Regions from separate parts of the Homo sapiens genome. Here region 1 is linked to region 2. The links come from fine-mapping of genetic effects on gene expression. A gene starts in region 2. The other region holds a variant in brackets. All regions are shown on one strand. Distances are from middle to middle. Region 1 holds the start of STYX (serine/threonine/tyrosine interacting protein). Region 2 holds the start of GNPNAT1 (glucosamine-phosphate N-acetyltransferase 1).

Region 1 (15,249 bases), 55 kb after region 2:
AGGTTGCCATACCTGCATCTCTCGTCTCATAGGGTAGGTCCACTCCTGGGAAGGAAAACATAAGAATAAAAGTAGATAACATTTAAAAAGTCACCCAATTAAAGGCTAAAGATGTGACACACAAGTATGTAGATTTTTTAAAGTTACATTATACTTTAAGAACATTTTATTAAAATAGCAGACTTGGTTTCACAAACATCTGAAAATTGAAGTGACAAGAAACAAAGCTTAAAGCATTCTTTAAATAACTAGGCTTCCAGAATTGTTATGTTACTTCATAAAATGGATGAAATTACTCATTAAACTTAAGAATAGAATAGATATTCCAGAAGATTCTCCCAAAACTGATCTTCTAAGTCAGAGATGCCAATAGATTTTTTTTGTTTCTCATGCCAACTCTAATCAACTGACAGCAGATACCTAAAACACTGTGTGGTCCAAGACAGGAAGAAGAGTGTCTGATCAACAAATAATATCTGAAATGGATAAAAGAAGAATGCTATGTCATACGTACTTGCCATCTCTGATCTAAAATGCCAAATGCTTATCAAAGAGCCTTTCCTTCATCTCACTTGGGCCTAACATTCTTGTCTAGTTCAATTATTTTAACACATATCACAAAACATAAGAGACTTCATTTTGTCTTTGGAATGCAGACCAATATAAAGAAGCTGTAAAACAACACAAAATGTCAATGGTAAAAGATAAAAAATATTTTAAAACTTAGAAAAAAAGTATAGTGAATTGAAATGAAGAATCGAAATAGACTAAAAGGCCAGGCTCTGTGGCTCATGTCTGTAATCCCAGCACTTTGGGATGCCGAGGCAGGCAGATTGCTTGAGCTCAGGAGTTTGAGACCAGCCTGGGAAACAGGGTGAAACCCCTTCTCTACTAAAAATACAAAAAAATTCGTTGGGCATGGTGGAGCCTGCCTGTAATCCCATCTACACAGGAGGCTGAGGTGGGAAGATCGCTTGAGCCTGGGAGGCAGAGGTTGCAATGAGCTGAGATCACCCCACCACTCCAGCTAGGGTGACAGACTGAGACCCCGTCTAAAAAAATACTATAGTACAGATAGTCCTCATTTGTCAGTGGGTTGACTGCATTCCAAAAGTTTCTAAGTTGGTTGCTTAAAACTCAGAATTATTATTAGTAATTAGGTTTCTGAAGTAGTCTGGAAAATATTTTTTTAACCTTTTATTTTGAAACAATTTTAGGATTATAGAAAAGTTGCAAAAATAGTACAAGGAATTCCATTTACCCTTCACCCAGATTCTCTAAGTCAGAAAAGTATTTTTTTTATTTTTTTATTTTTTGAGACCGAGTCTTACACTGTCATCCAGGTTGGAGTGCAGTGGCGCGATCTCGGCTCAATGCAAGCTCCGTCTCCCGGGTTCACACCATTCTCCTGCCTCAGCCTCCCGAGTAGCTGGGACTACAGGCACCCACCACCACGCCATAATTTTTTTGTGTGCTTTTAGTAGAGACGGGGTTTCACCGTGTTAGCCAAGATGGTCTTGATCTCCTGACCTCGTGATCTGCCCGCCTCGGCCTCCCAAAGTGCTGGGATTTCGGGAGTGAGCTACTGCCCCCGGCCCAGAAAAGTATTTTTAACACAGAAGGTAGAAATAGTATACATCTATAATGAAAAGAGAGAATAATAATCCTACAATGAGAGACAGGTTTTTTTTTTTAACTAAGAGAAACAGAAAACATTTTTATTTTTAATCTTGAAAACTGTTCTCAGCAATATAGTAGTAGACTATAAACCCCGAGTAATGACAGTTTAAAAAAATCAAAAAGCCGGGCGCGGTGGCTCACACCTGTAATCCCAGCACTTTGGGAGGCTGAGGCGGGTGGATCACCTGAGGTTAGGAATTTGAGACCAGCCTGGCCAACATGGTGAAACTCCATCTCTACTAAAAATACAAAAATTAGCCAGGCATGGTGGCGGGAGCCTGTAATCCCAGCTACTTGGGAGGCTGAGGCAGGAGAATCGCTTGAACCTGGAAGCGGAGGTTGCAGTGAGCTGAGATCGTGGCATTGCACTCCAGCCTAGGCAACATCAGTGAAACTCCATCTCAAAAAAAAAAAAAAAATCAAAAGATTCATAGCAATCAATCAGAAGGAGGCCAGTTATCCTGAGCCAGCATAAGGAAGTCCCCTGTGTTTTAATACTATAAAGAAACTAACTTTGAAATGACCAATCCACTTTTTGTTTCATTTCTGCTTTATTTAGCTAGATTTTGCCTATAAATTCAACTTCCTCTGCTCAGCACACTGAAATGCCTTTTCTAAATCTTTTGATGACACACTGCCTGATTCATGAACCACTAATAAAAGTGAGTTAGATTTTTAAGCTAAATTTGTTGTAATTTTGTCTTTTGACACAGGGTAGGCCTATGTTTGGCTTTACTAGATACTGCCAAAAGTTTTGTAAAACCACTGTACACTCCCACCAGCAATGTATGGGACTTCTAGTTGTTCTACATCTTCACTACGGCCTTATTTTAAGTGGAAACGTACTTGTAAACATAAGACAAAGTCTATGATCTGCTCAAAGTCGAACTCAGATCAAGACCAAAAAGCTAGAACTCCCAAAGGCAACATCCTCAGTGAAAGATAAACTAGGGAAAGAAAGAAAAACAAAAACTCAACTCATCCCACAGAAGTGAGTACTCTTGTCCTTCCTAGCTTTGGCTCTGGGTAGGTATTGGTAGTGGTGGAGTGGGGTCTTCCTAACCACAATCTGGCATCCACTCAAGTTTGGGGTTAGAATTCAGTTACTTTTGTGAGGCCAAGTGAGAATTTAATGTAAGTGGTCCTGGGTAGATTGCATCCCTGGATTCCTGGAAGAAGCAAATGCATATTCTCTAGAAAAACACACCTTAAACCTAGATCAGAAATAATTCACACAGATAAAGTCCCAACAAGCTCACAATCAAAAACTAATTTAAAAACAGGAAATGAGCCACCACAGGAAGCAGAAACAACTGAGTTACACTTACAAAACTGCAGATATTATAAGCAATAACGAAAAATATAAAAAATTTAAAGAAATTAGAGTATCAAAATATGACCAGACTAAGAAATTGATTTTTAAAAACACAGAATATGTAGAAATAAGAAGTATAATTGAAATTAAAAATCAGTGAATAGGCCAGGTGCGGTGGCTTACACCTGTAAATTACCAAGTACTTTGGGAGACTGAGGTAGGCGGATCACTTGAGCTCAGAAGTTTACCAGCTTGGGCAACATGGTGAAACCCTGTCTCTACTAAAAATATAAAAATTAGCCAGGCATGGAGGTGGCACGCCTGTAGTCCCAGCTACCCGGGAGGCTGAGGCAGGAGAGTTGCTTGAATCTGGGAGGTGGAAGCTGCAGTGAGCCGAGATTGCACCACTGCACTCCAGCCTGGGTGACAGAGTGAGACTCCATCTCTCATACACACACACACGAAACTCAAAAGTAAAATCAAAAGATATCATTACCTACCATTAGAATGGTTAAAGTTAAAAAAATTGACAACACCAAATGCTGGTGATGATGTGGAGCAACTGGGACTCTCACACATTGCTGGTGGGAATGTAAAATGAAATGGTAAACATACACCTACCCTATTATAATATCTAGCCATTCCACTCCTAGGCTTTACCAAAAAAAAAATATATATATATATATATATAAAAACATATATCCACACAAAGACTTATACATGAATATTTATAGCAGCTTTATTTATTGTAGTCTCAAAGAACTCAAATGTCTATGGTCTCTTCATACAAAGGAATAGTAGTACTCAGGGATAAAAGTCTACGAAGTACTCATAAACACAACAACATGGATGAATTTCATTGACATTATGCTCAGTGAAGAAAGCCACACACAAAAGAGTCCATTTGCATGATTCCATTTGTATCAAGTTCAAGAGCAAGGAAAACTAATCTATGTTGATAGAAATCTGGTTTCCTATTGTGGAATGGGAGAGGAAATGCCTGGAAATAGATGTAACCTTCTATGCTAATAGAATGTTCTTGTATCTTGATGGGGTGGATTAGTGTATGTTCATCAAAACTCAATGAACTGCACACTTACTATTTGTACATTACACTATATAAATTTTACCTTTATTAAAAAAGATCAACTAGACAAAAGACAGATTACACACAAAGGAAGGACAATCAGATGGACACTGACTTCTCAATTGCATGAACAGAAGCCAGAGGACACAAATAATTCATTCATAGTGGCAGGACAAAAACAACTGTTAATTAAGAATATATGCTCGGAAAAATATCTTTAAAGAAAAAAAGTTAAAATGTTCTTTGAAGAAGGGATACTATCACTGTCTATTTTAGTCATAGAGAACCTAAGTAACTTGATTTTGGATCCAGAGAGTCTGAACCCAGAGTTCATTCTCTGAATCAATATACTATACAGTCTTTCAATGTAAGAATGAACTTTACGGCAAACATACAGTTACAATTAAACAAATATTGGCTGCATAAAATAATGACTAATTTATGGATATTAACAGAATAGAAATAAAGCATGTAATTTCTAAGCCAGCAATGAGGGAAATGTAATTGTTTACTAGATACTTTTTTTTTCTTTTTGAGACGGAGTCTCGCTCTGTCGCCTAGGCTGGAGTGCAATGCAGTGGCACGATCTCAGCTCACTGCAACCTCCGCTTCCCAGGTTCAAGCAATTATCTGCCTCAGCCTCCTGAGTAGCTGGGATTACAAGCGCCCACCACCAAACCTGGCTAATTTTTGTATTTTTAGTAGAGATGGGGTTTCACCATCTTGGCCAGGTTGGTCTTGAACTCCTGACCTCATGATCCACCTGCCTCGGCCTCTCAAAGTGCTGGGATTACAGGCATGAGCCACCGCGCCCAGCCTAGATTCTTTAACTTACCAATGTGTTATGGTAATCTTTTTATATATGAGTTTTTTAGCCAGGTATGGTAGCTCACACCTGCAATCCCAGCCCTTTGGAAGGCTGGGGCAGGAGGATAGCTTGAGCCCGAGTTCAAGACCAGCCTGGGCAATATAGGGAGACCTCATCTCTACAAAAATTAAAAAATTAGCCAGGTGCGGTGGTGGTGCATGACTGAGGTCCTAGCTACTTGGGAGGCTGAGGCAGGAAGATCACTCGGGCTTGGGAGGTCGAGGCTGCAGTGAGTCATCATGGTGCCATTGCACTCCAGCCTGGGCAACAGAGACAGACCCTATCTCAACGAAAAAAAAAAAAAAAAAAAAAAAGAAAGAAAGGAAAAAGAAAACAGTTTTTAAAGACTTTAGGCCAAATACTCTTTTTAGTCATGGTACCCCTAATGATAAGCACAGTGCCTGACACAGAATAAGCACAAAATAGATGCATTTCAGAGATCTACTGCACTAAATGTTATTGACTTTTTTCTTTTTAAAAGATTCTCAAGTAGTCTAACAGCCAGCCTTATCTTCCTGAAGCAACTTGTCAGAGCTGTGATAAAGAAGAAAATCAATTAAAGAAATGAGTACTTTTGAATTTATCTAAAGTGAAATCACTAAATTTTGTGTAATTAAAGAAAAAAAAACAGGGCAACACATATCAAGGAATGGTGTAAATATATTCTGGGAAATACTTGTGTAAGGCAAGGAAGACTTTCCCTCTACCATCAGGATTCGATAACAGTCTATGAAATAAACTAAATGGAGAAAATGTATACAAATTTATTATGTGTATGGGAGTATCACAGGAAAGAAAAGTGTATACCAAAAAAAAAAAAGTGGTATTTTTAAAAAGTGTATACCAAAAACAAACAAAATCCGTGATATTTCAAACCAGTCTATGAAATAAACTAAACGGAGAAAAGGTATACAGATTCATTATGTGCATGGGGGTATCACAGGAAAGAAACGTGTATACAAAAAAAAAAAAAGTGATATTTAGGAGTTTATATACCCTTTATATAGCATGGGGGTAGAGGTATACAGGCAATTTAGAAGAACAATTCTGGAGAAAGATAAATGGGCCCTTAGAATAATAATAGATGATACTTTGTGTCAGTTTGTCTGGGTGTGGTGCTGACTTTTACTCTCCTCTCCAGTGATAAGAGACAATCTTCCCTGGTTGATCAAACTCCCTAGGAGCAAACTGAGCTTCTTTTGGAGGATCTGTCCTTAGGTAGGTAACAGGAGTTCAGAGAAAGTGTTTCTTTGCATTTGCTACTTTGCAAGTGTTTCCAACTTAAAGTAATCAATATATCAAGGTGTCATATTTTGGAGTGGCATTTCCTCAACACCTTCATTTGGCAATATGCCAAAAGACACTCAAAGCCACTGAAGTATCAATTTTATCAAAAAAATTCTTTAGGGAGAAACAGTATTTTCACTGGTTACTAATTTAAACAATTTTTATATTAAAACAAACAGGCACATATGGGATAGAATGCAAAATTTACCTGAACCTTTTAGCAAAACAAGAGGCTTCAAAGAACTTTTGAGCTTTCCATAAGGTTATATGTAATACAACATGAAAGACTCTCTTGAGATATATATATATATGGAAGATATTATAAGAGGGAAAAGCAAGTTGTATAGTAGGAGGGAATGAAAAATTATTCCTAGTCACAGGACAGATAAGAAGCCTTCTTCAGAGAACATTAGTAATTACTGCAATAGGTATGGATCCTTTGAAACCTAGAAAGCTTTCTCTCACAGAAAAGTTCATTTGGAACTATTCCTGGTGTTATCATCAGATGCTGATCTCAGAATCCACCTTCTTTGCTGCCCTAACCCAGATTACCACCTACAGAACAAACCTTAAACCTGCCTGTTGGCCGGGCACAGTGGCTCACGCCTGTAATCCCAGCACTTTGGGAGGCCAAGGAGGGTGGATCACAGGGTCAGGAGATCGAGACCATCCTGGCTAACATGGTTGACACCCCGTCTCTACCAAAAATACAAAAAATTAGCCGGGCATGGTGGCGGGCGCCTGTAGTCCCAGCTACTCGGGAGGCTGAGGCAGGAGAATGGCGTGAACCCGGGAGGCGGAGCTTGCAGTGAGTTGAGATCCTGCCACTGCACTCCAACCTGTTAAAACAAACAAACAAACAAAAAAACCCTGCCTGTCTATGGATCTTACTAACCAAGATTTTAAGTCTGAATGCTCATAGTCTTCTTCTACCACACATCCGTCTGAACACACGTCTAATAACCAAGTCTTGCCACTATCACACTTAATTCTTAATCTCAGCCTGCTCACACTACTCCTGAAATCTATCATTTTAGAAACCGTGGTATTAATGGAGGCATCTCCATATCACCAGCAATGATCTATTTTAAGTTACTATTGTAATTAATTAGTAGAAATCAATTTCCCAAACTTTATGAGTAGCCAAGCAGTTCAACCACATTAACCAAACCAAGGCAAGCCAGATAAACCAAAATAACCCTCTATTGTGAAACACCATGATTCTGAGACAAATTAATTCACAAGTGAAAATCTTTCGATCAACATGAGGTAGAAAGTACCACATGTTAAAACATCCTTCCGAATTATCTCCTTCCTTTCCATAAAAATGATCTATAAAACTGCATTTGGATAGAGAAAAGTTACAAAAATGTTCAAAGACCCTCAAATAAACACATCAATGAAGGATATAGACTGTAACCATTAGATAAAATAATTCTTATATGCATTGAAATATGAAATATGAACTTTTACAAATACAGTAGTCCCCCCTTATCCACAGGGGATATGTTCATACATTTGAGGATAGTGCTGAATCCTATATACACAATACTAAAATAAAACACAAATTGTACATAGGCTGGAGGTGGGGGGCAACAGTTTGGGGAAGAAAAAAAACATCAGAATACTAGACTTGCACTGGGACATTCCACAAAACAGAAAAGTTAGTATTGCACTTTCTCTCCTAGAAAAAATAGGTAAATCCCTCCAAAGTCCTTTTCCTTTCATTCCCACACCAAGCTTGAGCTTTGCTTAAATCAAAGGAGAAAAGAAAATGTTTCACTCAAATAAAAAGAGAAGGTGGGCAGGGACTGGAGGGGCAGAAGAGTACTCAAGTAAGATATTTTCTAAACCAGCAATTTTTAAACCTGACTGAACATTAGAATCATCTAGCTTCATTCAGATAAATTAAACTACAATAGGTGCTGGTAGGGTCCA[C/G]GCATCAGTATTTTTAAAAAATTCCTTACTCTAGAGTAAGGGTTAAAAAGCACCATTCTAAATAAAGGAGCTAGAAAAGGAATCCTCAGCCATGTATGTTAAATAATTCCTATCTTTGATCCTGTACTACGGGATTCACAAGAAAAATGGAAAGGGAAACATGGAAAGTTGCTAAACTGCAATGGAAATAAATATTTCACTTTCTGTCAGAAGAGAAGATAAAACATTAACTTTTAAATTATAAAACCAATAGCCCCAGCTACAACCAATTTGCTTAAAAATTGGTACTATCAGCTACTCCTTCTTCCTAATATCTAAGCTCTCTTATGAAAGGTTCAGTCTAAATGGAAAATAGACAATGACCAAAAATTGTTAAATGTTACAAAGGTAAGTATTAAAGTACCAAGTGCCATAGTAGCTGGGGAATTGAACCAGTCTAGAGGATGAGGAAAGGAGTTAGAGAAACTGGCAAACAGGAAAAGCTTCTCTGAAGAAATGTTGCCTAAAGTGGGATCTAACCCAAGGGTAAGCAGTTAATTAGGTGAGGGTAAGGAAGGTGCTGGCAGCCAAGGCAGGGGAAAATAGCAAACATAAAGGCTCTGAAGGCGGGGGGTGGAAATTAAAGCATTCCAGGAACTGAGAGAAGATAAATATGGCTAGGGCTTACAGAGAAAGGAGCAAGAAGAGTAGCTCATAATGAGGTTAGAGAGGTATGCAGATGTCAGACCATACAGGACCCTGGAAATAATGTCAAGGGTTTAAATTTCATCTTCAAAACAATGGAAATTCATGAAAAAGTTTTAAACAAAAAAAGTAACAATCTTTTCACAAACTGACTGATCTAAATTTTTGTTAGCACTGTCCTATACAAAGAATACCAATATTTCAAGAAACGTGAAAGTAATATTCTTGTAGAGGTGACAGAATCATCAACCTATCATAGCTTGATCACATTAACATTAAAAGCATTCCCTGAACTCTCTGCTTGAATTCAGTTTTTATTAAATTTGGTCTGTAATTTGGATTTCCAGGTAGTGCTCCCTGTGTCAAAGAAACAATGCTGGCTGATCACTCTAACTACTTAAGACCATTTGACACTTTACATTATCTCACTGGAGATTAGAAAATTAACAGTGCTTATTAGTCAGTTTATTATGAATAACTATATGCTCCTATTTAATAGTTTATTTATGTGGCCCCTATGTATAGTTTTATCAGCCCAGAAAGTACCCTCTACCTGTGGAAATGTTCCTATGGTTTTGGTGGGAGGGCTACCAACAATAAACTTCACTCCTCTAGCCAAGGAATTAGGGATATGACCTAGATGGGGCCCCTCATTGTATCTGCCCTTTCCTGGCTACAGTGACTGATCCAAAGTGTGGGAACATGAATTAAATTGGGCAATTCCTCTAGATTTCAAACACAGAAGCTGGAAGTGTTCAGTTTTATTCCTCAATAACCAAGCTCATAAAGGTGTGACCCCAGATGGCCAAGCTTCACATCTTGGAGAAGCCAGAGAGAAAGCAGAGACTCCGAGAGAAAGTAGAGATAAGAACTCATGAGAGACAAAGGCAGTTCTGATGCTTTATAATACCTGGGTTTGGTCAAATCCTTGAAACTAGCTGCACCACTACCCTTCTGGATTTAATTACTTTTTTTTTTTTTGAGATGGAGTCTCGCTCTGTCTCCCAGGCTGGAGTGCAGTGGCTAGATCTCGGCTCACTGCAAGCTCCGCCTCCCGGGTTCATGCCATTCTCCTGCCTCAGCCTCCCAAGTAGCTGGGACTACAGGCGCCCGCCACCATACCTGGCTAATTTTTTTTTAAGTAGAGACGGGGTTTTACCGTGTTAGCCAGGATGGTCTTGATCTCCTGACCTCGTGATCCGTCCGCCTCGGCCTCCCAAAGTGCTGGGATTACAGGCGTGAGCCACCACGCCCGGCCGGATTTAATTACTTCTTCTTTTTCTTAAATTCGTTTTTGTTGCTTGCAACCAAAAGATACCAAACATGCAATATTAAGAAATACGGAACGAATTGGCTTTCAGCAGACAATACTTGCATCATTATCCACTAGCTTTAACCATTACCTCTGTCCCTGTGATATAATATGAAATACATGGTCTTTCTCTCCAGTTCCTGTCACAGTCCTCCTAAAACTCTTGGAATTTTCTAATAGGAGTGTCTTTGGTTATTTATGAGCCACTATTTTTGATCAAACCTGATTATGCTAATGAAGTGATTTAGGGTGGGGCCAGTCACCAGAAAGACCATGTGACAAGAGGGTTGAACTCTCAGCCTCACACACACACACACCTCTATGGGAGGGGATGGAGATGAAGTTCTATAAAAACCGTTGAATAAGATTTGTTGAGCTTCTGGATGAAAACACTGGAGGTGCTAGTGAGGCAGGTGAATAGGGTCTGGAGGCAGGGAATCTAAGGCTGTTTCACCCCGACTTCCCAGAACTAACTTGAAGGGAAAACCCTAACTTTCCACGCCTAAGTAACAAAAGGACCAGAGGCTACTCCCGTTGCAAACCACCTACCTTTTCTGCACAGTAGACGGGAAATTGGCTGTCCTCAACAAATCAGACTGACTGCGGGTGGAATCTTCGTTTGCAACTTTGTAACTTCACTCTAGCCACTGAATGGTCGCTGTCCACAACCAAGCGGACTGATGTGGGGGTGGGTCTGGCAACCAATCAGACCAATTGCAAGCCACCTCTTCATTTACATGAGGTGAGCATGGAATGGCCAATGGGAAAGTTCTAGGGGGTATTTGGACCCAAGAAGATTCGGTAAAGCAGCGGGGGTCGGGGGGGAGTGCTGCTAGGGCAGCTCCCACACTGTGGAGTGTACTTTTGTTTTCAATAAATCCCTGCTTTTGTTCTTTTGTTGCTTCATTCTTTCTTTGCTTGGAGTTTTGTCCAATTCTTTGTTCAAAACGCCAAGAACCTGGACAGCTTGCAATCATGACTCTACTGGTGACACTGGGATGGTGGTGTGCCCCTTCCCCCATACCTTGCCCTATTCATCTCTTCCTACTGGCTGTTCACTGATCTTTTGTAGTATCCTTTATAATAAACCCGTAAATGTACTTCCCTGAGTCCTGTAAGTCACTCTAGCAAGTTAACTGAACCAAGGAGGGAGTAACGGGAACCCTGATTTACAGTCAGTCAGGAGTGTATAGGTGACAACCTACTACTTGTGATTACCATCTGAGGTTGGGGGCAGCCTTGCGGGACTGAGCCATTAACCTGTGGGATCTGACTAACTTCAGGTACATATGTGTCAGAATTGAATTATGGGACATTCAGTTCATGCCTGCTGGAAAACTGCTTGGTATGGAAAAACCCCCACACATCTGGTAGCATAAAAAAAAGAGTGTGTTTTCAAGTCCCACACAGAAAAGACAGGTATATATTCCCAGCAAGAATTTATCAGTTTTGCAGGAATAAGGCATACATAATGATATACACAGTAACAGATTAAATGCAAAGTCCGGGAAAATTTTAAACTAGAATTTTTAAGATTAGGGCAGGGAAGAATTGAAGTGTATTAAAAAGAACAATGAATTAGGAGGCCGAGGTCCTTCTGTGTCTTGTGCTACTGTGTTGTTAATTTGGCACATCACTTATTTTCAGTAAGGTACAATTTCTTCACCTGGAATGTGGGACTCCTCTACATTATTTGTAAGGTTGCTTGCAGTTAAGTGCTGAAATTACTGAATCATTTTGAGGATATGAAAGCATACTCCTTCGCGGTGGCTCAAGCCTGTAATCCCAGCACTTTGGGAGGCCGAGGCAGGCGGATCACTTGAGGTCTGGCGTTCCAGACCAGCAGGGCCAACATGGTGAAACCCCGTCTCTACTAAAAGTACAAAAATTAGACGGGAGTGGTGGCGGGCGCCTGTAATCCCAGCTACTCAGGCGGCTGAGGCAGGAGAATCTTTTGAACGTGGGAGGCGGAGGTTGCAGTGAGCGGAGATCACGCCACTGCATTCCAGCCTGGGCAACAAGAGTGAAACTCCGTCTCAAAAAAATAAATAAATAAATAAAAGCATACTCTTCATTCACATTATTGTATGTTAAGTATAAATTCATTTTTATAACTAGCCTAAATATGACCTCCTGTTTTCTAAGAGTATATTGGCCGGGCGCGGTAGCTCACGCCTGTAATCCCTGCACTTTGGGAGGCCAAGCCAGGCGGATCACAAGGTCAGGAGTTTGAGACCATCCTGGCCAACATGGTGAAACCCCGTCTCTACTAAAAATACAAAAAAATTAGCCCGGTGTGGTAGCGGGTGCCTGCAGTCCCAGCTACTCGGGAGGCTGAGGCGGGAGAATGGCGTGAACACGGGAGGCAGAGCTTGCAGTGAGCCCAGATCGCACCACTGCAAGATCATTCCAGCCTGGGCGACAGAGTGAGACTCTGTCTCAAAAAAAAAAAAAAAAAAGCTGGGCCTGGCGGTGCGCGCCTGTAATCCCCAGCTACTCAGGAGGCTTAGGCAGGAGAACTGTTTGAACCGGGACCCGAGGCAGAGGCTGCGGTGGGCTGAGACAGCGCCACTGCACTCCAGCCTGGGGCAACAAGAGTGAAACTCTGTGTCAAAAAAAAAAAAAAAAAAAAAACCATGAGTATATTCTTGGGCCAGGTGCAGTGGCTCACACCTGTAATCCCAACACTTTCGGAGGACAAGGCGGGAGGATCTTGAGGCCAAGAGTTCGAGACCAGCCTGGAGAAAAAACCCATCGCTACAAAAAAAAAAAAAAAGAAAAATTAGCCCGGCATGGTCCCAGCTACTCCAGAGGCTGAGGTGAAAGGATGGCTTGAGCATGGGAGTTCGAGACTGCAGTGAACCGAGATCACACCACTGCACTACATTTTGCAACAGTGATAGTCACAAACAAAGTCTCTACTCTTAAAACAAATGTAATTGTCAAGCATCAATACCACAAGAGAGCCCTCCAAACAAAAATGTGAACCTAGGCCGGGCGCGGTGGCTCATACCTGCAATTTCAGCACTTTGGGAGGCCGAGTCGGGCGGATCACAAGGTCAGGAGATCGAGACCACCCTGGCCAAAATGGTGAAACCCGTCTCCCCTAAAAACACAAAAATTAGCTGGGCGTGGTGGTGCGCGCCTGTAGTTCCAGCTACTCAGGAGGCTGAGGCAGGAGAATCGCTTGAACCCGGAAGGCGGAGGTTGCAGTGAGCCGAGATCGCGCCACATTGCACTCCAGCCTGGCGACAGAGCAAGACTCCGTCTCAAAAAAAAAAAAAAAAAAAAAGTGAACCTCCAATGAAGATATTCAATAGAATAAATATTCGGAATAAATTGAATGGTCTCCTAAAAATAGGGCTTTATTTTTCCCAACTACTTTAAAGGTATTTTTAACTAGCGATGTTAGATTTTCTTTCTTAATCCTACTAAAGTATAGCTGAGTATCTTCGTCTTGTTAATTTAGCCTCCAGAAAATTCTAATTTAGTAGTCTGCAATGCCGTAAAATGTTAAACTAGCAACAGATGAAAAAAAATCCGAGTAGAAACAGCAGGCAGGGATCTAAGGTGGAGTAAAAATAGCCACAAATTAGAAACCAGGAGAAAAGGTATATAGTATTTTACTTTCAATATTAATTTTCCTCCAAAGGTCAAGATTTCTGATTAAGAGTTCTCAGATTAAGATGAGCTAGCTTTGAGACACTTTGTTGTGCGGGTCATAGCTTTGTCTAAAAACAAACAAAAAACTTTGGGAAACTTTTCGAAGGCGCGCTTCCAAACTTCAGGCGCCGAGTCTATTTCACATGTGGGGCCATGTGTCCCACAAGTGAATCGTTTACACCACAGATATTCCTCAAAAGGAGACTAAACCAACTTCGCTCTCTTGTTACTTTGACAATAAAAGAGGAACCTTACTCCAGGTCAGTCCTGGATGCCAAGCCTAGGGACTAAGGGATTGCTTTTCCTCTTCTCAAATGTAAGTACACCAGACGCTGCCCCTCCGCGGGGTCTGGAGAGGACGAGCAACTCAGTGGGGATTGGAGCCGACCGCTCGGCTTCAGAGGTCCCGGGACGCCCTTAGGAGGCAGGGCGCCCGTACAGGTGGCGGCTAAGACGGTTGGGGACTGGGGTCGCCCCTCGGCCGGAGCCACAGGGAGAGGCCTGTGCGTGGCAGCCACGGGAGCGACTCACCTCGGCGTCTTCCTTGCACTGTGGAAGGGAAGGGAACTCCAGCTTCACGTCCTCCATGGTGCTGGCCCGCGGGCTGGTGGGTGGGGTGGGAGAGTGTTACACAGCCGGCCGACCCTCGGGCTGGCTGCGGCGGCGGAAGGAAGGAGGGCCGGCGGAGCGGAGGGCTGACAGGAGGGCGGCGGGATTACAACTAACACACGCAGACTACAGGGTCCCAGTGACTCCAGCAGCGGCGGCGGCGAAGACAGGGAAGAGGAGGGTCGGGCGTCTTACACCCGGCCGCCATGCCGCTGCCGTCTCCCTCCCCCAGAGTCTCCGTACCCCTCAGGCCGCCCAGGATCCAGCACAGGAACCAGCCCGACAACCGTCTCCCCGCCTCCTTCCCGCCCCCTCCACCCGCGTCGCCTCAGCCAATCCCAGCCCACGCTCGCCTTCTGCCCGCCCTCCGCCGCCGCCAGGTGTCAGCGCGCCACCGCCCTGCTCCGCCCCTTCGCTAGAGCGCAGACGCTTGGGGGTGGGGGGGGCGGAGCCTCGGATGCTGCTAGGCCACAGCTCACCCGGCGTGGAGGAGGCGGGGCTGCGGTGGGACAGGACGAGTGAAGGTCCTGGGAAAGGCAGTGGGGCGGTCCGAGCCAGCTCCGCCCTTTCCAGACAGGACGTAGAGCCCTTCTTTAACATAAGAACAAACAGGCAAAACAGGCTACCCACCAGTGGCATCCGAAAGGAAAGCTATAGTTTCTCCCCTCTCAAAATTCTGCGCAATCTATGCTGAGTTTATAACCAAATGACTAATAAATGAAGAGTTCAATTTAAAATCACGTGGTGCCATACAGAAAATAAAATACCCATCACCTTTAAGCAAAGAATTAAACGGCTCAATTTAA
Region 2 (15,249 bases):
CGCGATGCACCTGCCTTGGCCTCCCAAAGTGCTGGGATCACACGTTAGCCACTGCTCCCGGCCCTAATGCTAAAAACGTTTAAATTGCTTGTAGATATAATATTTTCTGCAATCTGCTTTTTTACATCCTCAACATAGTAAAATGCTATAAGAATTAGAGACTGACATACTTAGTAAAGCCATCACTAAGTTTTACTTCTCAATTTACTATTTTTTAATAGATATTTTATTATACGTCCAATCACTTTGAAGGAAATGATACAAAGAGGGGAATAAAAAAGGATAAGACATGATTAAGAATTTAGCAAATAATTGGAAAGATGAAATTAGCATATGAGAAACGATGCAGTAAAAACCAGCAATGTCTGGAGCCAGAGTTAAGGAAGTTGTGGAGTAACAAACAAGTTAAAACATTATTTCTGAGGAGGTACACTGGTAAGATTTTTTTTTTCTTTTTCTTTTTTTTTTTGAGATGGAGTCTCACTCTGTCCACCCAGGCTGGAGTTCAGTGGCGCAATCTCAGCTCACTGCAACCTCCGCCTCCTGGGTTCAAGCGATTCTCCTGCCTCAGCCTCCCAAGTAGCTGGGATTACAGGCGCCCGCCACCACGCCCGGCTAATTTTTTTTTTTGTATTTTTAGTAGAGACGAGGTTTCAGCGTGTTGGCCAGGCTGGTCTCCAACTCCTGACCTCAAGTGATCCGCCCGCTTCAACCTCCCTTTTACCAGGGCTACTTTTTTTTTTAACTTGTTTCATGGAAAATTTCAGACGTGTACAAAAATAGTAAAATGCATTTTCAGGCATCACCAAGCCACTCTGACAGTTTTATTTTCTTGGAATGCTCTTCCTCTAGACATAGTCACAAGGCTGACTTCCTCACACCTTTCAGAATTTAACTCAAATGACATTTCAGAGAGGTCTTCTCTGACTACTCTATTTAACACTGCACCTCAACACTCCTTCTGCCTCTTCCCTTTCCTGTTTTTCACCATAACTTTGATCACCTAACATTTTATAATTTTTTACATGTTTTTTTCTGATCTGTTCACAATCTAATAAACTACATGAAGGCAAGGATTAACAAATGTTTTCTTAACTGATATGTCCTAGTACCTAGAACAATTCCTGATACATAGAAGGGCTTAACAGTCAATGAGTGAATGAATATTAATATGGGGAGTTGTTAAAAAATAGAAAAATAGGAAGCGGCCCCGTGGCCGGAAGTGGGCCTAGAGCGCCGCAGCCCAAGATGTAGCTGGCCGTGGATGAGATGTTTCCAAGGGCGCCGGGCCCTACGTGGACCTGGACGAGGCGGGAGGCAGCACCAGGTTCTTGATGGACTTGGCAACTAATGAAAAGGCTGTTCATGTAGACTTTTTAAATGGTTTTGAAGATCTCTTTGATGATGATGACATCTAGTGAGATGCCGTCTGGCTGCAGGCGGGTCCAAGCCCTTGGTACAGAGCCGTGGTGTGAGCCTGCGCAGGGCAGTTTCAGGTGATTTTAAAGAACATATGGAAATACGTTGAAATTAGGACCTGGTTAACCAAGAAAGACAAAATTGTACTTGACCACCTGGATGAGGCTGTTAATCTCTGAACGTGACCAGGTTTTGCCTTCACTTCAATTAAAAGAAAGCAATGTCACATGCCAAAAAAAAAAAAATTACAACAGAGTTTGGACAGTATTATACGATGCTAGGGAAAAAACATGTGGATTGTGACAGAGGTTAAGCAGTCACCAAATATTCTCTACTCTGAATTTCCCTGCTAACTTGGTAGCTAGGCAGGGTTACAATTACTAACATGGCAAATAAATTGTGAGCGTAAGGGAAGTATGTCAATTATGGGATCAGGCAGTAAAAGTTCCATGCATGATTTTCCAGTCTCTTTTCACTATTCTGGTCACTAAAGATGTCATGTATTTCAGATTTTGACCAGAATAGGGTGGAACTGCCATTAGCCTCTATCCCTGAGTGATTACATGGAGAAAGTGCCCTAACAATTGGTGTAAGACAAAAAAAAACTTATTGTGTTAAGCCACAGAGATTTGGGAGGTTGTTTGTTATTGCAGACTTATTCTGACTATATGCAAATATATGTACACAAACCAGCATTTATTAAGCACGTACTATATGTCAGGCACAATGCTGAACACTTTACATATATTATTTTATTAAACCTTCATCAAACTCTGCAAGCCTGTACTATTACACTGACATGAGAAAACTGGGACAATGTGAGGACAAATCATTTGTCCAAGGTGGTCAGCTAAATGGAAGGGCTGAAAATGAAACCCAGGCAGTCTGAAGAAACATCTATCAAGCTGTTAACTGTGGTTGATATGGTTTGGCTCTGTGTCCCCACCCAAATCTCATCTCAAATTGCAACCCCCATGTGTTGAGGGAGGGACCTGGTGGGAGGTGATTGGACCATGAGGGCGGTTTCCCCCATGCTGTTCTTGTGATAGTGAGGGAGTTCTCACGAGAGCTGATGGTTTTGAAAGTGTTTGGCAGTTTCCTGTTTGTTCTGTCTCCCTCCTGCCTTGTGAAGGTGTGCCTTGCTTCCTCTCACCTTCCACCGTGACTGTAAGTTTCCTGAGGCCTCCCCAGCCATGTGGAACTGAATCAATTAAACCCTCTTTTGTTTATAAATTACCCAGTCTCAGGTAGTATCTTTATAGCAGTGTGAAAACGGACTAACACGGTGGTTATCTTTGAAGGCAGAAATAAGGAGACTGATCACTCTTTGTTCTATATTTCTGTAATATTTCAAGGTTGTTATTTTTTTTTTTTCAACCTCCACCTCCCAGGTTCAAGTGAATTCTCCTGCCTCAGCCTCTAGAGTAGCTGGGACTACAGGCGCGTACCACCACACCTGGCTAATTTTTGTATTTTTTAGTAGAGACAGAGTTTCACCATGTTGGCCAGGCTGGTCTCAAATTCCTGGCCTCAAGTGATCCGCCCACCTCGGCCTCTCAAAGTGCTGGGATTACAGGCGTGAGCTGTGGCCAGCTTTATTGAGTTCTTAAGTTCAAATGTCTATAAAGAAAAAAAGTGATATGGTTTGGCTCTGTGTCCCCACCCAAATCTCACCTTGAATTATAATAATCCCCACGTGTCATGGGAGGGACCCAGTGAGAGGTAACTGAATCATGGAGGTGGGTTTTCCCATGCTGTTCTCGTGATAGTGAATAAGTCTCATGAGATCTGATAGGTTTTTTTTTTTTTGAGATGGTGTCTCACTGTGTTGCCCATGCTGGAGTAGAGTGGCGCGATCTCGGCTCACTACAACCTCCACCTCCTGGGTTCAAGTGATTCTCCTGCCTCAGCCTCCTGAGTAGCTGGGATTACAGGCGCCCACCACCACACCTGGCTAATTTTTGTATTTTTAGTAGAGACAGGGTTTCTCCATGTTGGCCAGGCTGGTCTCGAACTCCTGAACTCAAGTGATTTGCCCACCTCAGCCTCCCAAAGTGCTGGGATTACAGGCATGAGCCACCATGCCTGGCCAATCTGATGGTTTTATACAGGGGAGTTCCCCTGCACATGCCCTCTTGCCTGCTGCCATGTAAGACACGACTTTGCTCCTTCTTTGCCTTCCACCATGATTGTGAGGCCTGCCCAGCCATGTGGAACTAGGAGTCCATTAAACCTCTTTCTTCCTCTCTTTCTGCCTTTCTTTCTTTCTTTCTTTTTTTTTTTTTTTTTTTTTTTTGAGACAGAGTCTCGCTCTGTTGCCCAGGCTGGAGTGCAGTGGCGCGATCTCCTCTCACTGCAAGCTCTGCCTCCCGGGTCCACGCCATTCTCTTGCCTCAGCCTCCCGAGTAGCTGGGACTACAGGCACCCACCACCACGCCTGGCTAATTTTTTGTATTTTTAGTACAGACGGGGTTTCACTGTGTTAGCCAGGATGGTCTCGATCTCCTGACCTTGTGATCCACCCGCCTCAGACTCCCAAAGTGCTGGGATTACAGGCATGAGCCACCGCACCCGGCCCCTCTTTCTTTTTTTTGATGGAATTTCACTCTTGTTGCCCAGGCTGGAGTGCAATGGCATGATCCCAGCTCACTTTTTTTTTTTTTTTTTTGACGGAATTTCAGTCTTGTCACCCAGCCTGGAGTGCAATGGCATGATCCTGGCTCACTGCAACTTCCGCCTCCCAGGTTCAAGCAATTCTCCTGTCTCAGCCTCCCGAGTAGCTGGGATTACAGGCACCCACCACCACGCCCGGTGAATTTTTGTATTTTTTTAGTAGAGATGGGGTTTCACTGTGTTGGCCAGGCTGGTCCTGAACTCCTGACCCCAGGTAATCCACCTGCCTCGGCCTCCCAAAGTGCTGGGATTACAGGCATGAGCACCTCTTTTTCTTTATAAATTACCCAGTTTCAGGTATGTCTTTATTAGCAGCATGAGAACAGGCACACAGCCTCACTCATAAAAAAAAGAAAAATTATAGCTGGGTACAGTGGCTCATGCCTATCATCCCAGCAGTTGGGAGGCTGAGGTGGGCACATGATGGCTTGAACTCATGGCTAGTCATGAGTTCGAGACTAGCCTGAGCAATGTGGTGAAACCTCATCTTTAATAAAGATACAAAAAAATTAGCTGGGTGTGGTGCTGCACGCCTGTAGTCCCAGTAACTCGGGAGGCTGAGGTGGGAGGATTGCTTGAGCCCAGAAGGCAGAGGTTGCAGTGAGCTGAGATTGTGTAGCCATATTCCAGCCTGGGCAACAGAGTGAGAACTTGTTTCAAAAAGAAAAGGAAAATTGCTTGAGTTTCACTTGCATTATGGAAATAATAGTGCCCACCTTATGTCACAGGATTCATATGAGGATCAAATGAAATAATTTATAAACATGTTTAGAGAATGTCTTCGCCTATTTTCTACTACTGTAATAGAATACCAAGACTGGGTAATTCATAATAAAAAGAAGCATATTTGGCTCACAGTTCTGGAGGCTGGGAAGTGCAAGAGCATAGTACCAGTATCTGTTGAGGGTCACCCCATGGCTGAAGGCATCACATGGAAGGAGTAGTGTAAGAGAAAGAAAGACAGGGAGGAGCTGAACTCATCCATTTTATCAGGAAACCACTCCCACGGTAACAGCATTAATCCATATTATGTGAGGGAAGAGCTCTCATGACCTAATCACCCCTTAAGGGCCTCACCCTCTTAATACTGTACCATGGCAATTAAATCTCAATGTGAGTTTTGGAGGGGACATTAAAACCATAACAGAGAATTATAACTTTAAGACCATATTAAGTATGTACCATATTACCTTTTTTTTTTTTTTGAGACAGAGTCTCGCTCTGTTGCCAGGCTGGAGTGCAGTGGTGCAATCTCGGCTCACTTAAACCTCCACCTCCTGGGTTCCAGTAATTCTCCTGCCTCAGCCTCCTGAGTAGCTGGGACTACAGGCGTGTGCCACTACGCCCAGCTAATTTTTGCATTTTTAGTAGAGACAGGATTTTACCATGTTGGCCAGGATGGTCTCGATCTCTTGACCTCATGATCCACCCACCTCAGCCTCCCAAAGTGCTGGAATGGTACAGGCGTGAGCCACCGTGCCTGGCCTGTACCATATTTCATCCAATCTTAGACACATCCATTGTATGACACGCCATTAATTTATATACCACTAAGAAAGAAACAATGTGGCTAATTTAAAATTATAATATCTTATCACTTGGAACTTGTAATACCTAGTGAAACAACTCTTCTATACTTAATTAGACATGGATTGTTATATCTAATTCCTGTGCAAACATTAAGAGGAAAATATAAATGAAATAAATTGGCTAAGGTATTCTTTTTTGGGGGGGGATGGAGTCTCGCTGTTGCCCAGGCTGGAGTGCAATGGCACAATCTCGGCTCACTGCAATCTCTGCCTCCCAGGTTTCAAGTGATTCTCCTGTCTCAGCCTCCCGAGTAGCTGGGACTACAGGCATGTGCCAGCACACCAGCTAATTTTTGTATTTTTTCTGAGAGACAGAGTTTCACTATGTTGGCCAGGCTGGTCTTGAACTCCTGACCTCGTGATCTGCCCGCCTTGGCCTCCCAAAGTGCTGGGATTACAGGTGTTAACCATGGTACCCGGCCAAGGTATTCTTAAACTTCTCATTCAGGCCAACGTTCCTGAATCACTTCTCAACTCAATCACTGACATCTATGTTTATCCACGTAATAGCCTTATTTGTGCCAATGAGAATATTGTTGTTGGTCAGACGCGGTGGCTCACACCTGTAATCTTAGCACTTTGGGAGGCCCAGGTGGGTGGATCACAAGGTCAGGAGTTCAAGACCAGCCTGGCCAACATGGTGAAACCCCATCTCTACTAAAAATACAAAAATTAGCTGGGTGTGGTAGTGCGCACCTGTAATTCCAGCTACTCAAGAGGCTGAGGCAGGAGAATTGCTTAATTGGAACCCAGGAGGTGGAGGTTGCAGTGAGCTGAGATCACACCACTGCACTCCAGCCTGGGCTACAGAGTAAGACTCCCTCTCAAAAAAAAAAAAAAAAAAAAAAAAAAAAAAAGAATAATGGTGAATGCAGCATTTCTTCTAAGAATCTAGAAAAATAAATAAAAATCAACCAAAGGACATACCAATGGTTCCATTAAACCAGAAGTTGAGACTGTCTCCTGGTTATCTTGGGCTCCTCATTGCCAAGTGAACCTACAGGCAAAGAAAGGGGTTAACTGTACTGGCCAGAGTAATCGACCTTGTCTATTAAGGAGAAATTGGGTTCTTATGGCCCAATGTGGGTAAGGAGGAGTATATGTGGAAAGTATGAGATCTCTGGGGGTACCTCTTACAAGCCTTGTGTTCTGTGATTTTAGAATTGCTTATGTTTCACTTTTTGCTAATTTATAAAACATACAGCAGTTTGTTGTACAGGATAAACTCACTGAAAACATTTGACCAGAAGTCTGATAAGAAAAACGGGGAGGGCCATATGCTTAAGATTAGTGGTGTGTACATAAGCATTTTTTTAAATTTTTGTTTGTTTTGAGACAGGGTCTTGCTCTGTGGCCCAGACTGGAGTGCAGTCTTGCAATCATGGCTCACAGCAGCCTCTGCCTCCCGGGCTCAGGTTATCCTCCTACCTCAGCCTCCTGAGTAGATGGGACTACAGGCACATGCCACCATGCCTGCCTAATTTTCAGTATTTTTTTTTGTAGAGACAGGTTTTTACCATGTTGCACAGACTGGTCTCAAACTCCTGGGCTCAAGAGATCCACTTGCTTAGGCCTCCCAAAATGTTGGAATTACAGGTGTGAGCCACTACGCCCAGCCATGAGTGTTTATTTTATTTATGCCTTACATATTCTTTTTTTTTTTTTTTTTTTTTTTAGAGACAGGGTCTTGCTCTATTGTCCAGGCTGGATTCAACCTTGTGGGCTCAAGTGATCCTCCTGCCTCAGCCTCTGGAGTAGCTGGGACTACGGATGCATACCACCACATTCTGCTCATGCCCTATATATTCTTTTGTATGTATGGGTGTAAAAACAGAGATAAAAACAGAGATATGGATGCCATCAACTCACTGATGTTTGAAGTTCTGAGAAAGCATAAATCAGTAAAGGAGTTAACTGAAATTTAAATCTCACAAATGAGCAAAAAATATGATTTCTGGTATATGATCTATGGGGTTCTTTGAATACTATTGCTTAAGAATAAAATACTTTGCGATTTCAATAAATTGAAAATTATGGTACAAGGCAAGGAAGGGGAGCTACTAGCTATGAGACTTTTGTAAATTATGTAACATCTCTGAACCTCTGTTTCCTCATCTGTTAAAATAGGGACAAAGTGCTACTTAGGTAAGACACTTCAGAAATGGGGCTCTGAAAAAAGTCACTTTTCTTCTCCTAACGAAAGGTTTCTAAACCTCAGCACTCCAGACATTTCAGGCCAGGTAATTCTTTGTTGTGCGGCGCTGTCCTGCGCACTGTAAGGCGTGAAGCAGTATTCCCGGCCTCTACTCACCTGTGCCCTCCACCATCTGTAGATTCCAATGACATCTCACCCCAGATGAGAGGCTGAAAATGATTCATACATTGCCAAATGTCTCCTGGGAGGCAAAACTGTTGCAGTGGAGAACCGCTGTCCTAACCCCATGTTCATCCAATAAAGGGTTTGAGGGACTGAGAAATGAAACAATAGTCCCGAAGGAGTAGAATGCAGTGGCCCCAACTCCTAGTTTCATGAAGGCAGGAACTGTGACTCAGAGGCCTGGGGATGCGGAGCTCTGAACTGCCAGCTGGTAGGAAAAGTCCTAATTAATGGATTGAATCATGAAGGGAGGGCAACAAGGAACAAATGGAGAGGGCCAGTGGCCGAGCCTTCGGTCTCAGGATCAAAGAGGCCCACACTGGTCACCACTTACGCTGCTGGGCTGACTGCTAGGTAGACGTATCTGCAGATAAACCGAGACAATGACGCGGTGGGAAAGGCCTTGGGGAGCGAGGAGGAGGAGCCGGGAGAGGCCAGCTTTGGTCCGGCGGCCACCGCCCCAGGCGCCGCGACTCGAGCCTCAGGCCCCGCCCCTCGCCCTCCTGGTCCCGCCCCCGCTCTCCGAGCCCCGCCCCTCGCCCTCCTGGTCCCGCCCCCGCTCTCCGGGCCCCGCCCCTCGCTCTCCGGGCCTGGGCGGGTGGCGCCTTGGCCTCCGCCTCCGCTCGCCTGCGCGCGGCCCTGCGTGAGGGGGCAGAGGCGAGGTGGAGGCGTTGGCGCTGCCACGTCTGGGCCGCGGTTCCCAACTGTGGCGCGGGCGGTGGAGGAGGAGGTGGGGCTGGCGCTGAAGCCGGATCCGGATCCGGTGCTGTGCACACTGGTGGGGGAGAGTCCGACGCGCCTGGCTAGGAGCGCCGACCGCAGGGCCTCTACGGGTGAGGAGGGACCGGGGCCGGGGCGCGAGAGCAGGACCGTGTGTCCTGGGGGCTGGGGCGGGCCTGCCCTCAGGTTTATCTAACAGGTGTGTCTGGTGCCCCGGCCAGGCCCCCGGGGGTGTTGTGTGGAGGAGCTGGGCGTTAATCCTCGCCAGCTGGGTGCACATGGTGTGGAGCGCGGTTCCCAGGAAGTTGAACGCACGCGCGCCTGGAGCAGAGGTTAAGGATGATGGCCAGCGGTCCGGCCATACGCTGGTCTTGGCCTGGCAGGGCTGGAACTGGGACTGGGGTCGGAACTTCGCTCCCCAGACTTTGGCGTGGGAAATGAGACAGTTGGTCGCGCTCTCTGCAGCCATCGGTTTTGAATGGGCACGAACGTCCCAGGCCCCTTCTCTTCTCCCATTCCCGGGCGCATCCCACGGTGGTCGGAGCCATTGAGGCAGCTGCTCCGAAGACCACCTCCGCACCGAGTAGGTCGGCGCTTTCCCCAGGGTACAGAGGGACATTCTTTGTCTCTTTTTCCTAGGCTCCTACCCCTAGAAATACCGAGTACTGTACTGTGATTTCTGTTGCGGGAGCTGATGTTTATGTAAGCCAAACTAATTTAAAATTTTCATACAAAATTGAACGGGCGATTATAGGATTCGTTTTGTTAGGATAATCCCTCATGAACGAATCCTAGAATGGATCTTAAGAAATTAATTTAGGCAGGATTTGCTAAATAGGGGAGAGAGCGCTAGCTGTATGGTATGATGATGTAAAGATTGGGGTCTGTTGAGGATGGTAATCGAGCTCAAGATGCGAAAACGAGGATTCTAGCCCCAAGTCACTTACTTGCTGTGTTACCTAAGGGGCAAGTCTTGGGAGTTCCAGGTGCTCCAGCTTCCTCATCGGTAGACTGGGAATAACGCCTAGATTGTAAAGGTCAAACTATCAGAAAATACTTTTGAACATTCATGCAGTTACACAATTTAATAAATATGGCCAGGTGTGTTAAAAATCTTTAACGGAATAGATTCAGAATGGATTCTTGTTATCGAAATTGTTATAAAATGAATATAAAGGAATCCGAAGTCCGCCCCTCCCCCATTCACCTGTACTTAGAAGGTTCCCCAGGAGCTCTTGAGAAATACATAGGCTGGTTTAGATTTGGCCTTAGATTGTATTTTTTAAAATTTGTAGATCGACTTTTAAAATCTTCATCTCCGGTGTCTATTACTTGTTGCTCTCCGTTGGTTGCTTCTAGCAGCAGCCTCTCTCCCCATTCGTATTCCAACCTGATACAGAGGCTCAGACGCCAAATAGTTGAAGTTTTGTTTAAAAAATATTCAATTGAGTGAAAAAATATTCAACTGATGTGATGACTAGTAAAAATGAATTTGGTGTATGCTTTCCGCGATATTGTGGCAGTTTGGGAATTTTTTTTTTTTTTTTTTTTTTTGTCCTTCTGGATTTTCTGAAATGTGACCTACAGGTAAGTCTTATTCGTTATTCATTCACTAGGCATTATTGGGCTAGGGTTAGGCTTAAACGGGTCTTCTAAACGCCTGCTAATTTAGCAGTTAATCAGAAAAGGTTCTGAGGAATACTTAAGGAGGATTAGTGTTTAAAGTTCATCTAAAAACTTTAAAGAACCTAATGATATGATGAGATTCCGCTTCACACAACTGTGCAATTTTATTCGCAGAAATTTCCTAGTTTTGCAATATCTGGGCACCTGAAGATGCTAAAAGATTATTTATATAAAATTACTTATTTAATTATGTTCTAAACCCCCTTGGAACCAGGTTTCAAGTCATATCTTGCTTCACTTTGCCCAGTACCTTAGTTGGGCACCAGCAGAATTTTACGGTTTGAGGACAGAGTGAGCTAAAGTGGGCCTTCAGTATGGCTCTGTTTTGTAGAATAGCTCATAAAAAAATTTTTGATGTTAATTTCTGATTGCCTGGTTAATAGATTCTTATTTCAATCTGTAATGCTTTGTTTAATGTATTTTGACTAGTCTGATTCCCATTTTCCAAATGTAGGTTCTAAGTGCTGCTTATGACTTAATTTTTAACCCTTGTACAACAGTAAGATAGGGAATTTATCTACTCTAGTGCATCTTCAGTGTAATGGTTAAGAGCAGAGTCTGAAGTCATACTACCTAGCAGGACTGGCTACGTAATCTGTGGTAATCCAAATTAAAATGCAGGGTTCCTTGTTAAAAAATTAAGAACTTCAAAACAGTGGCAGCAGGGTATCAAACTTAAGTGCAGGGCCCTGTGTAACGGCACAGGTCAGGGGCTTCTGAAGCTGGCCCTGTTGCCTCATTTTGAATCCTCACTCTGTTCTTATTGGCACTCTAACCTTGAGCAAGTTACTGTGCCTGCTTCCTTATCTGTAAAATTGGGATAATAATGATACATCGTTCATTGTATTTTTAAGAGTTAACATATAGAAAGTTTTCAATAAGTGTTAGCCAATATTATTTATTTTTATGATCATTCGTGGAAAAGGACTGTCTCATCAAAGAAAAGTACAAGAAAATATTAGTATTTCCTGGTTAAAATTCATTATTTAAGGGCTTCATAATCCTAGTTGTTTTCCTGTATACTTCTTCCCTCTCATGAAAATTATTAACCCTATTTTTCATGTTTTCTAGACCACATTTTTATTGTAAACACAGACAACTTTATAGGAAAAAGGAATCTAGTTAAATGTGGTTAAGGTTGATTTAAATTCTCTTTTGAGTTTTCTTTGAACTTTGTATTTACAACTATATGTTTAATAGCAAGACCAAAATGTTTAAATAGTGTGCTGCCTCGAGGAATTTACATTTTTAATACTGTACACATTTCACTTTATTAATACTTAGCCTGTTTATCTACATACCTGAAAAACAATGTTGCTACCTACCATTCAGATGAGATTACACACAAAAACCTCAAGGGTCCAATTTAGACAAAACACTAAAACACGTGGACTCAATTTCATCTATTAAAAACTTGTTTTGGCTGAGCATGCTGGTTCACACTTGTAATTCCAGAACTTTGGGAGGCTGAGGCTGGAGGATCACTTGAGGTCAGGAGTTCAAGACCAGCCTTTCCAACATGGCAAAGCCCCATCTCTACTAAAAATACAAAAATTAGCCAGGCGTGGTGGTATGAGCCTGTAGTCACAACTACTCTGGAGGCTGATGTGGGAAGCTGAGGTAGGAGGATCACTTGAGCCCAGGAGTTTGAGGCTGCAGTGAGCTATGATTGCACCACTGCACTCCAGCCTGGGCAACAGAGTAAAACCCTGTCTCAAAACAATAAAACAAAACAAAAAACCTATTTTGAATGGCTATTAAACTTGTTAAATTTGAAATGACTGCTTGATCATCACAATTTCTATATTTTCCTTAATATTGTTAGAACTGGGTATAGTGTATGCAGCATAATTTGAATCATTTTGTGTGTGTGTGGCTGGGGGGACCTCTCAGCAGTCTACATTATAAACTACGTTCTTTTCTACCCAAGAATGCTAACTTTTGGTATAACATAAACGTAAGAGCCTGTCATTCTTTTTGTAGTTCCTGTAACCAGCACAGTGCCTGATTCATGAATTAAAGGTAAAAAAAAATGAACAAGAATTTATAAACTTTAATTTTAAATTTATTGCTAACTAGCATATATCTTATTAAGTACTTGCAGTATTCCAGGCACTGCTAAGTGCATGACTGCATACAGTAATGCATTTAATTCTCCCAGTAATTTCATCTCCATTTTACAAATGAGGAAACTAGATTCTAAAAGCTTAATTACCGTAGTACATATCACACAGTTGACATTTGAACACCAGGTATGAATCCAAAGCTCATGCTCTTTCTATGCCTAGGTTTAAATCCTGGCTCCGCTAATTTTGTGACCTTGGGCAAGTTACTTAACATTTTCTCATCTGTTAAAATGTAGATAATAACCACTCCTAACCTGTAGGATGGTTGAAATAAATGAATTAGTAAAGCTCTTTCAACAGTCTGGCACATAAGAAGTGCTGAGCAAGTGTTAACTTCTGTTGTTACATCACATCACACTACCTTCCCATAACTAGTATATTGCAGCATTGCTTATATAGTTACATAGGATTATACAGGCAGAAACTTATTATCCATCTTTAAGGAAAAGTTAAGAATATTTGCCCTAAAGCATACTGTGACTTATGAAATAAGGAACAATTGGGGGTTAGGTTATTGGGCAAATTGTTCTCTCATTAAAATATGGTTTCTTTAACTGGATATAGAAATAAGTTGGGGACTGCTTTTTTTGGATCTCTAATCCAAAAATCCAAAACACTCCAAAATTTGAAACTTTATTGAGGGCCAACATGATGCCACAAGTGGAAAATTCCACATCTGGTATAATGTACAAAAACTTTTCCATGCACAAAATTATTTAAAATATTGTGTAAAATATTTGTGCTATCTGTATAAGATGTATATGAAACACAAATGAATTTTGACTTGGGTCCCATCCCCAAGATATCTCATTATGTATATGCAAATATCCCCAAATCTGAAAAAAAAAAAAAAAAAAAAAAAAAAAAAAAATCCAAAACCTGAAACATTTCTGGTCCCAAGCATTTTGGATAAGGAATACTCAACTTTTAATTGTTGGGAAGCATCTGTTTCTTTTAGCAATTCTGTGCTGCACAGAAGCCCCCTGGCCCCAGTTTTATGCTTTGTATGATTTGTTTTTCATCCTTCCTATCGTTACTTCTCTGTTATTTAGTCTCAGTTTTAAAACATTACAACTAGTGAGAACCTGCTCATTTCTAAATGTTCAAAAAAGAGGGGGAAATATCATGATCACTTTTCAATAGCATGAAAAACACCAGCTATTTTTAAGCTGCTTAGATGCAACTGAGAAACACTATACAGTTTAATTTTAATTTAATTTTTTTGAGACGGAGTTTCACTCTTGTTGCCCAGGCTGGAACGCAATGGTGTGATCTCAGCTCACTGCAGCCTCCACCTCCTGGGTTCAAGTGATTCTCCTGCCTCAGCCTCCCAAGTAGCTGGGATTACAGGTGGCCACCACCACACCTGGCTAATTTTGTATTTGTAGTAGAGACAGGGTTTCGCCATGTTGGTCAGGCCGGTCTTGACCTCCTGACCTCTGGTGATCTACCTGCCTCTGCCTCTCAAAGTGCTGGGATTAAAGGCACGAGCCACCATGCCTGGTCCATACCACAGATTTTTAGAAAATCTGCTGTGAAAACAAAATCCTGCAGTGTATATCTAGCATAGCCAAGGTAAAGTATTTCTGAGAATGCCAAAAAAAAAAATTAATTTGAGCCTGTTCATCAATTTTCTTCTATTCATGGTTCATTGAAAAAAAAAAAAAAAGCTACATGTGGCTAGACATGGTGGCTCACACCTGTAATCCCAGCACTTTGGGAGGCTGAGGCAGGCGAATCACCCGAGGTCAGGAATTTGAGACCAGCCTGGCTGACATGGCGAAACTCCGTCTCTACTAAAAATACAAAAAAAACTAGCTGGGCGTGGTGGCAGGTGCCTGTAATCCCAGCTACTCAGAAGGCTGAGGCAGGAGAATTGCTTAAACCTGGGAGGCGGAGGTTGTGGTGAGCCAAGATCACATCATTGCACTCCAGCCTGGGCAATAAGAGCGAAACTCCATCTCAAAAAAAAAAAAAGGCTACATGCCCAGTAAGTTTTTTGAGAGGGAATTTCACTCTTACATTGCCCAGGCTGGAGTGCAATGGCGCAATCTCAACTCACCACAACCTCTGCCTCCCAGGTTCTGAGGCGATTCTCCTGCCTCAGCCTCCCGAGTAGCTGGGATTACAGGCATGCGCCACCACGCCCGACTAATTTTGTATTTTTAGTAGAGATGGGGGTTTCTCCATGTTGGTCAGGCTGGTCTCGAACTCCCGACCTCAGGTGATCTGCCCACCTCGGCCTCCCAAAGTGTTGGTATTACAGGTGTGAGCCACCGTGCACAGCTGAAAGTTTTCTTTATTGGCAAGTAAGACTAAGAGATTACTTTTTTAAAAAAAATTTTTTTCCCCTTGCAATTTCCTGTTGAAACAGATGCCTTCTTGGCTCAATAATAAAATCCAAGAACATAATGTAAAAAATTTAAGAGCCCATGAAAAGTCAGCTATTCATTTAGTAGCACCAACCCAGAGGAAAAACATGTTTTAAAAGACCTGATAATAGCCGGGCGCAGTGGCTCACGCCTGTAATCCCAGCACTTTGGGAGGCCGAGGCGGGCAGATCACCTGAGGTCGGGAGTTTGAGACCAGCCTGGCTAACACGGCGAAATCCCGTCTCTATTAAAAATACAAAAAAATTAGCCGGGCGTGGTGTCACGTG

What was found. PIP is the estimated chance that this variant, and not a neighbour inherited with it, causes the effect.
Region 1: its variant is the best candidate, but not a certain one, in a credible set for the expression of GNPNAT1 in whole blood (INTERVAL, PIP 0.66).

The regions. Positions count from the first base shown.
Region 1 is chr14:52,729,648-52,744,896 of GRCh38, reverse strand. STYX (serine/threonine/tyrosine interacting protein) reads right to left here and starts at 14,731. Exons shown (of 11, transcript NM_145251.4): 1 at 14,366-14,731; 2 at 13-45. The coding sequence starts at 14,422. RefSeq lists an enhancer at 10,692-10,986 and silencers at 14,437-14,516, 14,587-15,046. The variant C/G (reference allele first, on the strand shown) is at 8,176.
Region 2 is chr14:52,785,070-52,800,318 of GRCh38, reverse strand. GNPNAT1 (glucosamine-phosphate N-acetyltransferase 1) reads left to right here and starts at 8,712. Exons shown (of 6, transcript NM_198066.4): 1 at 8,712-8,891. LOC105370500 (a long non-coding RNA gene) reads right to left here and starts at 8,531. Exons shown (of 3, transcript XR_943867.3): 1 at 7,993-8,531. It also overlaps the pseudogene LOC100288978. RefSeq lists enhancers at 8,090-8,604, 8,605-9,118, 9,226-9,315, 9,396-9,485 and silencers at 8,516-8,735, 8,836-8,915.